Linked DNA regions of Homo sapiens. The protein of the gene in region 1 purifies or fractionates together with the protein of each later gene. This does not show direct contact. Each region holds a gene or a part of one and is shown in the gene's direction. Other genes may lie near its edges.

Region 1 (4,707 bases):
AGGAAGGAAGAAAGGAAGGAGAATTCGCTTTGAGACTTCACAGCGTAGGGGGACAGGCTGGGAAAAAAATACAGATTTTTAAACTAGTGTAAAACATTTCTCCAGCCTTGCCCTAATGCAAAGCCAAATCATCAAAATGATGCATACCTGGGCCAAATCACCCTGATCCTCTTTCATATAATTGCCTTTCTGTAATTATGATTTAACACATCATGTACCTGAGTATGTAGGGCACTTTTTTTTTGTTTGTTTTGTTTTGTTTTGAGACAGAGTCTTGCTCTGTTGCCCAGGCTGGAGTGCAATGGTGCAATCTTGGCTCACCGCAACCCCCACCTCCTGGATTCAAGTGATTTTCCTGCCTCAGCCTCACGAGTAGCTGGGATTACAGGCATGCGCCACCACGCCTGGCTAATTTTTGTATTTTTAGTAAAGATAGGGTTTCGCCATGTTGGCCAGGCTGGTCTCAAACTCCTGACCTCATGTGATCCACCTGCCTCGGCCTCCCAAAGTGCTGAAATTACAGGTGTGAGCCACCGTGCCTGGCCATATTTTAATATTTTAAAAATAAATACTGTTATTAAGCATATTATATTTCATTGATTAATACCCCTCTAATGTAAAAACTCCTTGATCCACAGATCAGGGCCAAGAAATACTTTCTTTCATGTTGGACTGTTGGGCTTCCTACCACTAGACAAATTGGAGCTCCCATGACCAACTTTCTTTCCTTCTGGTTTGCATCTTTACTGTGGTTTGCACATTTGTTGTTTTTGGTCTTAATATCCTGTGCTTTATGGAGAGCTGTCTCAGATCACTGGGCCAGAGCTCTGTGTGGGCAGGAACCATGTATTTGTATTTCACAGTTGCATGCTTAGAACCTAGCATAGGGCTGATCCCTAGAAGAGTCAATTAATGCATGAATGGGTGCATGCCTGTGTGGGATATATGCAAGATAGAAATAGATCCAGAACTTTAAAACTTCTTGGAAGAATGATGATGAGGGAACACATGATAGTCACAGGGGATCTGGAAGGGAATTAACATTATTGAGCACAGAGGATCTGGGAGGGAATTAACAGTATTGACTGTCACCTTGGGAAATAAGGGTTCTCTCCCCATTTTAACTCAGAGGCAAGGGAGGCTCAAGAGGGTTATTGTGAATTGCCTGTGGTCTCATAACTAGCAAGTAGGTGGTAGAGAGAAAATTCAGACCTAGGTTAGCTTGACTCCAAACATTGGGCCTCTAATCTACCAAAATTTGGTTCACTTTGAGAACCAGATTCTTTGAGAAGAAATAGGTGGTTTCATCCAGCCCACTGCCCTCAGAGAAGACCACATCGAAGCAGAGCCGTGGCTTGTTTCCACCCCTTTGTGGGTGACTCACTGATGTCTTTAGCTGCAGCCTTTCCACCGAGTCCCAGTGGCCCACTCAGTCTCTCTTCTAGGAGGGCTACTGGGCATCCATTCCAGAGGAAACAGATACCAACCAGGACTGTGGTTCTGTGCTGCAGCCTGTTTTGCCCCATCGTTTCCCACTGTGATGAAGGGCACTACCAGTCACTGATCTACCCAGATGAAGCTCGCTTCTTCCCTTTCGCTTATGCTCCACAGCCACTCCATCGGCAAGTCCTATAGGTTCTATGGTCAAGCATGTCCTGAAGCTGATCGCCATACCACCCTCAGCCGAGCTGCCCTCACCTCTCTCCTGCACCCTGCAGGATCCCCCATGCTATTTTCCCTGCCCTTCTCTTACCTCCCTGTTTTGTATTCTCCATAAGCAGCCAGAGTAACATTTTCCAGATGTAAACCAAACACACTCCTCACCCATCTCAAAACCTTCCAGTGTTTTGTCTTCATATTTAAAATAAAATCCAAGTCCAGGCACGGTGGCTCATGCCTGTAATCCCAGCACTTTGGGAGGCCGAGGCAGGTGGATCACTTGAGGTCAGGAGTTCGAGACCAGCCTGGCCAACATGGTGAAACCCCATCTCTACTAAAAATACACAAAATTAGCCAGGCATGGTGGCAGGCGCCTGTAATCCCAGCTACTCAGGAGGCTGATGCAGGAGAATTGCTTGAACCCAGGAGGCGGAAGTTGCAGTGAGCTGAGATCACGCCACTGCACCCCAGCCTGGGTGAAAGAGTGAGACTCCATCTCAAAATAAATAAATTAATTAAATTAAATAAACTCCAAAGCCCCATTGGCGCACTGACCTCACTTCCAACTGCTCTCCCTCTTGCCTGGGTCGCTGCAGCCACATAGAGCTTGCTGTCACTCCAGGGCACCAAGCTGGAACGTCCTCAGCACTGCACTTGCTACTGCCTCAGCCCAGACCACATGCAGACTTGTTCCCACGCTTCATTCTGGGTCCTGCCCTAGATAAGATGTGTTCGGTGAGGCATGCCCTGAGTCCAGCCAGTGAAGCTGTGGCCCCAGCACTCTCTCTCCCTGACCCTGCTTTGTTGCCCTCATAGCCCATAAGGTGACCTGAACTTGCAGCAAGCATTTATTTGGTTCCCTAGTGGTTGCCTGTCTTCCTCATTAGAAAGATAGCTCATAGGCTGGGCGCGGTGGCTCACGCCGGTAATCCCAGCACTTTGGGAGGCCGAGGCGGGCGGATCACGAGGTCAGGAGATCGAGACCATCCTGGCTAACACGGTGAAACCCTGACTCTATTAAAAATACCAAAAATTAGCCGGGCGTGGTGGTGGGTGCCTGTAGTCCCAGCTACTCGGGAGGCTGAGGCAGGAGAATGGTGTGAACCCGGGAGGCGGAGCTTGCAGTGAGCCAGGATCGTGCCACTGCACTCCAGACTCCGTCTCAGAAAAAAAAAAGAAAGTTAGCTCATGATAAGGCAGGCACTACTCACATATCGCTTGTGTCCCCAGCACCCAGACAGGGCCTGGCTCAGGTAGGGACTCAGTGAATAAATGAATGAGCACAGCTTGGTCCTGATTTTGACACTTTTCCTTTTTCAGTAAAATGCCTTACTTAAACACTTGAGTATAAAAGAAGTTTCTGCTTAAGGCAGTAAAGGGGACTGACTTGATGTTCTTTCTTTCTCACAGTTGCCCTCAAATTGGCTGTAGCCACACGGATATAAGAAAGTCAGATCTTATCCAGGATGAAGCACTTAGAAGGGCAATTGAGAACCATAACAAGAAAAGACATCGTCATTCCGAGTAGGAAAAGCCACCTGCCTGCAGGGACACCAGCAGCCTACCTCCTACCCCAGCTGTCTGTTGAGAGCAGTGCTGACCCCAGCAGTTAGGGACTGGCTGCATAGCATACTTGTTGGGGGTAAAACTTGTTGCTTTTATGTGTGCTTGAAAACATTTTTCAAAGTTACACAACAGAAATGCAATCATATTGTTTATTTTTAAGTGTTCTATAATGTTAAATAAAACTTTGATCATCTGCAGTGTCCTCCCTGCATGCCTCCTGATGTATGGATTGTTCCAGAGGTGCAGGCTTTTCCATTTCAAGGACATCAGACTGATTTTTATAATAGTTTTGACTAAAGAATGTCTTTCAGCCAGGTGCAGTGGCTCATGCCTGTAATCCCAGCACTTTGGGAAGCCGACGTGGGCAGATCACTTGAGGTCAGGAGTTCAAGACCAGCCGGGGCAACATGGTGAAACTCCGTCTCTACCAAAAATCCAGAAATTATCCAGGTGTGGTGGTGCGCACCTGTAATCCTAGCTACTCGGGAGGCTGAGGCAGGAGAATCACTTGAACCCAGGAGGCAGAGGTTGCAGTGAGCCGAGATCGCACCACTGCACTCCAGCCTGGGCGACAGAGCAAGCCTCTAAAAAAAAAAAAAAAAAAAAAAAAAAAAAAAAAAAAAAGAATGTCTTTCAAGTGATATTTGAAATTGAAACATATAAAAACACCCCTATTGGGAGGCATTTTCTATGAGTATAGTAAATAATAGCATTTGGTTATAAAGCAAAGTCAGTTTACTTTCTTGTATTTACATTGTATATTGACAGTTCCAAACATATAAATGCTTTTATTGTCATTCTGAATGGAATAGAATGCTCCAGTGACTGGCTAATCAGTGCATTGCAGTGATGATTGATGCCTATAATGAATACTTTGCTGCAGCCCTCCAAGAGCCTAAAGTACCATCAACAGTAACCACATTCCAGCTGCTCTCTGTTTTTCTAGATGGTTCACTGCAAGTGACTTCATCCCTCTGGATGTTGGTGTCTTCAGCCATAAAGTGAAGGTGTTCAACAAGATGCTCTCTAATGTCTCTAATCAACAAGATGCTCCCTAATGTCCTGTGACCCCTGAGAGTCTATGGACTGACACCAGCAGGGTCTTTAAATTGAATGTCTTCAATTATATTCTAATTGTGTGATGAGCACCAATCTATTGTCTCCATTAGCAACCTTTTATCAACCTTACTATTTAATTAAACCAAATTTGAAGCATACCCTGATGGCACTGGAAAACCAAGAATAGCTAATAATAGCTAACATTTATTGAGTACTTATTTACTGTATACCAGGTGCTATTCTAAGTGCTTTACATTATATTAACTCCTATAATCTTCATAGCCCAGTGAGAGAAGGACAGTTCTTACAGATAAGGAAAAGTAGGCACAGAGAAGCGAAGTCACCCATGGAAAGTCAGAGATGGAACTAGGAAATGGCTGAGCTGGGACCAGAATCTGGAGAGCCCAGTCCTAAAATCTCCAT
Region 2 (4,226 bases), on another chromosome or scaffold:
GTAATCTCATTAATCTAATTAAATTAATTTTCCCTTTAATTGGAATTTTAAGTTGCTTTCTTTTTTTAGCATGTTAATATTTTATAGGTACAGGCAATTAAACTTCTGGTAAGGTGGCTGTTGGGTATGAAAAACAACCAGTCTAAATCTGCCAATTCAACCCTTCGGTTATTATCAGCGATGTTGGTTAGTGAGGGTGACCTGACAGAGCAAAAGAGGATCAGGTGAGATTTTTCTTTCTTTCCAGTTTTCTTAGTGCTGAAATTTTGGTGGAATTTACATAGGAATTATTTACCTAATGAATACTGAATGGTGTAATTACACCATGATCTTCAGGGTCAGATCTTATGTACTCATTTAGGGTTTGTCTGTCTGTCAGTATTGTTATTTTAATAGTGCCAATATATTTTTCTTCATTCCTAAAGAAGAGGAACTTTTTCCAGTAAATACATAATCATAATCACTATATTGTACTATTACAGTTAGCATCAACATTTGGTTCAATTAAACAAGTATTTGTTAAACTTCTACTTCATAAAACACTGTGAAAAGCATTGCAGCAAAAATAAGTAGGAAAAGTCCCTGCCTTCAAAGAGCATCCCTGTATTAAAGCGATTAAATAAGTGGAGTGACTTGAGTCCCATGAAAGTAATAAAAATTTAAGTGGCAGCCAGGCGCGGTGGCCTATGCCTGTAATCCCAGCATTTTGGGAGGCCGAGACGGGCAGATCACGAGGTCAGGAGTTCAAGACCAGCCTGGCCAATATGGTGAAACCCCGTCTCTACTAAAACAAAAAACAAAAATTAGCCAGGCATGGTGGCACATGCCTGTAATCCCAGCTACTCAGGAGGCTGAGGCAGGAGAATCGCTTGAAACCAGAAGGCAGAGGTTGCAGTGAGCTGAGATCGTGCCACCGCACTCCAGCCTGGGCAACAGAGCGAGAGCCTGTCTCAAAATAAATAAATAAATAAAAATAAAAATTGCAATGGCAACTCAAGGGAGAGTTGAAGCCTTCTTGTTGTTCTACAGATTTGGGTGTGTACACTTGTATGTGCACACAGAGATTGTTTACATTGTTACACATTTTCACTTTTAATCTCTAAAATTGCCATCTCATTTTAAGATGAAAATAGAAGCTCAGTTTTTCATGATCCTGGTTTCTGTCAAATTCTTGATTTAGTAGGGGCCAAGATTACCAACATAGATAACTAAAGTATTCTACATATGATGCATTCCTTTTTAAAAATTTGTTTTAGAGGACAGAGGTTTAATCATTCTTTATGAGGCTGAGTGCAGTGGCTTACGCCTGTAATCCCAGCACTTTGGTAGGCCAAGTCAGGCAGATCAATTGAGGTCATGTTGAAACCCTGTCTCTACTAAAAATATAGAAATTTAGCCAGGTGTGGTGGTACGTGCCTATAATCCCAGCTACTGGGGAGGCTAAGGCATGAAAATCACTTGAACCCAGGAGGTGGAGGTTGCAGTGTGCCAAGATCACGCCATTGTACTCCAGCTTTGGCTAGTTATGTGGTACTGCTATGCTATTAATTTTTTTAAAAATTATTGTGATTAGGAATGGGATCTCACTATGTTGCCCAGGCTAGCTGGGCTCAAGCAATCCTCCTGCCTCAGCCTCCTGAGTAGTGGGACTATAGGTGTGCACCACTACGCTCTATTTTTATCATAGAATAAGCCAAAGGCAGCCTTTTATAACACTGTTTAGAGCTGAGTTAGGGATAATGAAAGCTTTAAATTGGGGGTAATTATGTACAGTACATGGCAAAGGCATAATAATGAGCTCTTACAAGTCAGTGATACCTAGGCAGGACCCCCAGTGGAGATGAAGTTTAGCTATTATCAGTTTACTTTTAAAAGTTTAACATCACTAAATGCAGTCAATACAATTTAAACTTAATCAATACCTCTTTTCATTACAAATCAGAAAGAAAAAAAAACGTTATAAGCAATCATTCCTCAGTATGATCATGGAAATGGGTTCCTTCATTACTCCTATGAGTATAAATTAGCAGGACTCTTTGGCATTTTGCATCTAGATCCTCAAAAATGTTATCCTTGACTCTTTATTTTTACACTCATAATTCATGAGTATAAAAGAATCATATGAAAGCTTATACACAAGCATGTTCCTCCAGCATTATTTTCCATCACAAAAAATAGGGGAATGGTTAACCATAGAATGAACACCCATTGGACAGATCCTAACTGGATATCATATAATATAGTATTACCTTTTGTAAGCCTCAATTTCCTCATCTTATGGAGTGAAAATTAATTGAGATAAAGCCTATAAAGTGTTTTTCACACCTGCCTGGCACGGAGTAAGCACTCACATAATAGCTATTAACTTTGATTCCTGAATGAATGCCATAGAAACCATTTGAGGCTCCCTCATTGTTACCAGTGCTCATTTTAACAATCCTGTTGTCCAAGAGTGCCAGGTTTTCTTCTCTCTATGCTTAGCAACAGTCCCAGTGGGTTCCGGCTAGCTTTCTGCATTTCGTAAAGTGGTCACAATAAATACAAAAGCCATGCTATGTTCCACATAGAAGTCGAAGTAGAAAGACTCCCATGCCATCCCATTCATTACCACATTTTACCACGTAAGTAATAAAAATCCACAGTGTCGGGGTGGGAGTGCCAAGGCTTCATAGGTTCCATTTGAAAACTTTACTCTGCAAAAGGAGATCAGCCCCAGGAACTAGTACCTAAGACAGACACTGGCCTCTTATATTTCATATCCTTTAGGTATTTGTCTGATACTTCTTCACTCTTAACTGCAGCCCTGCCATTTCAGCAGGCATTAAACTAGATTCCTGTTACATGTTTATATGCAGGAAATAGATTTTAAATGATGATAGGTGATTTTTTTTTTAATTCTTTGTGGTTTTTTTAATCAAGTTTTTTTGTTTTTTGTTTTTTGTTTTTTGTTTTTTTTGAGACAGAGTCTTACTCTGTTGCCAGGGTAGAGTGCAGTGGTGCGACCTTGGCTCACTGCAACCTCCACCTCTCAGGTTCAAGCAGTTCTCCTGCCTGAGTCTCCCAAGTAGCTGGGACTACAAGTGCGTGCCACCACACCCAGCTAATTTTTTGTATTTTTAGTAGAAACAGGGTTTCACCATGTTGGCCAGGATGGTCTCAATCTCTTGACCTCGTGATCCGTCCACCTCGGCCTCCCAATGTGCTGGGATTACAGGTGTGAGCCACCATGCCTGGCCACTTTAATCAAGTTTTCTACAATCAATATGTATTTCTCTTAAAATGAGGGATACAGCTCCTGATGTAAAGAGTTTTTCCTAGCCTTGCAATTACTATGGTTGCAAGAATAAGCAGAGTTTTTGGGTTGTGGTGAAGTATCTAAGCTAGAGTTTGACTAGAAATGAAGGCAGGTAAATTTGTAATCAGAAAGTCACAATGATTTGATTTGATTGTGAAAGTCACAATCCCCTGTGTTAAGTTCATGGACTCAAAGTAGCTTTCCCATATTTGTACGTCATTTTAAACATAAATTATGCTCTAAGGACCTTACATTCAAAAAGGGACGAAAGCATTTTTATGAATGATAGTGGTTATAGGAAATGTTTATTTCTTTTTTGTTTGTTTATAGTAAATCTGATATGTCTCGCTTGCGATTAGCTGCTGGTAGTGCCATAATGAAGCTTGCTCAGGAACCTTGTTACCATGAAATTATTACCCCAGAACAGTTTCAGCTCTGTGCACTTGTTATTAATGTAAGTAACAATCTTATTTTTGTCAATTACTTATCTTCAAAGTTGAATACATTACTTTTCTATGGATACAAATCCATTTATAATGTGAATATATGCACAAAAGTCACTACTATTATTACCTGTTTAACTGTCTTCCAATTATTACATTATTTATTCTCCCATATAATTATCTTCTTTTTAATTGAAGACACTAAAAATACTTAAACTGCTGTTTTTTATTTAATAAATGGTTGCCAATTTAAGTTTTTCTGTGCTGCTGTAGGATGAGTGTTACCAAGTAAGGCAGATATTTGCTCAGAAGCTGCATAAGGCACTTGTGAAGTTACTGCTCCCATTGGAGTATATGGCGATCTTTGCCTTGTGTGCCAAAGATCCTGTGAAGGAGAGAAGAGCACACGCACGACAATGTTTACTGAAAAATATCAGTATACGCAGGGAATACATTAAGCAGAATCCTATGGCTACTGGTAAGTAACT

Evidence for each region.
Region 2: the proteins of NSMCE2 (region 1) and PDS5A fractionate together in Homo sapiens (co-fractionation; one study listed by BioGRID). This does not show direct contact.

What each region holds. Positions count from the first base shown.
Region 1 is NC_000008.11:125,363,699-125,368,405, forward strand, and holds the end of NSMCE2 (E3 SUMO-protein ligase NSE2), read left to right. Parts: intron 1-3,069; coding exon 3,070-3,187; 3' UTR 3,188-3,422; downstream 3,423-4,707. UniProt on the Homo sapiens protein: E3 SUMO-protein ligase component of the SMC5-SMC6 complex, a complex involved in DNA double-strand break repair by homologous recombination. Is not be required for the stability of the complex.
Region 2 is NC_000004.12:39,862,859-39,867,084, reverse strand, and holds part of PDS5A (sister chromatid cohesion protein PDS5 homolog A), read left to right. Parts: intron 1-87; coding exon 88-224; intron 225-3,625; coding exon 3,626-3,749; intron 3,750-4,011; coding exon 4,012-4,216; intron 4,217-4,226. UniProt on the Homo sapiens protein: Probable regulator of sister chromatid cohesion in mitosis which may stabilize cohesin complex association with chromatin. May couple sister chromatid cohesion during mitosis to DNA replication.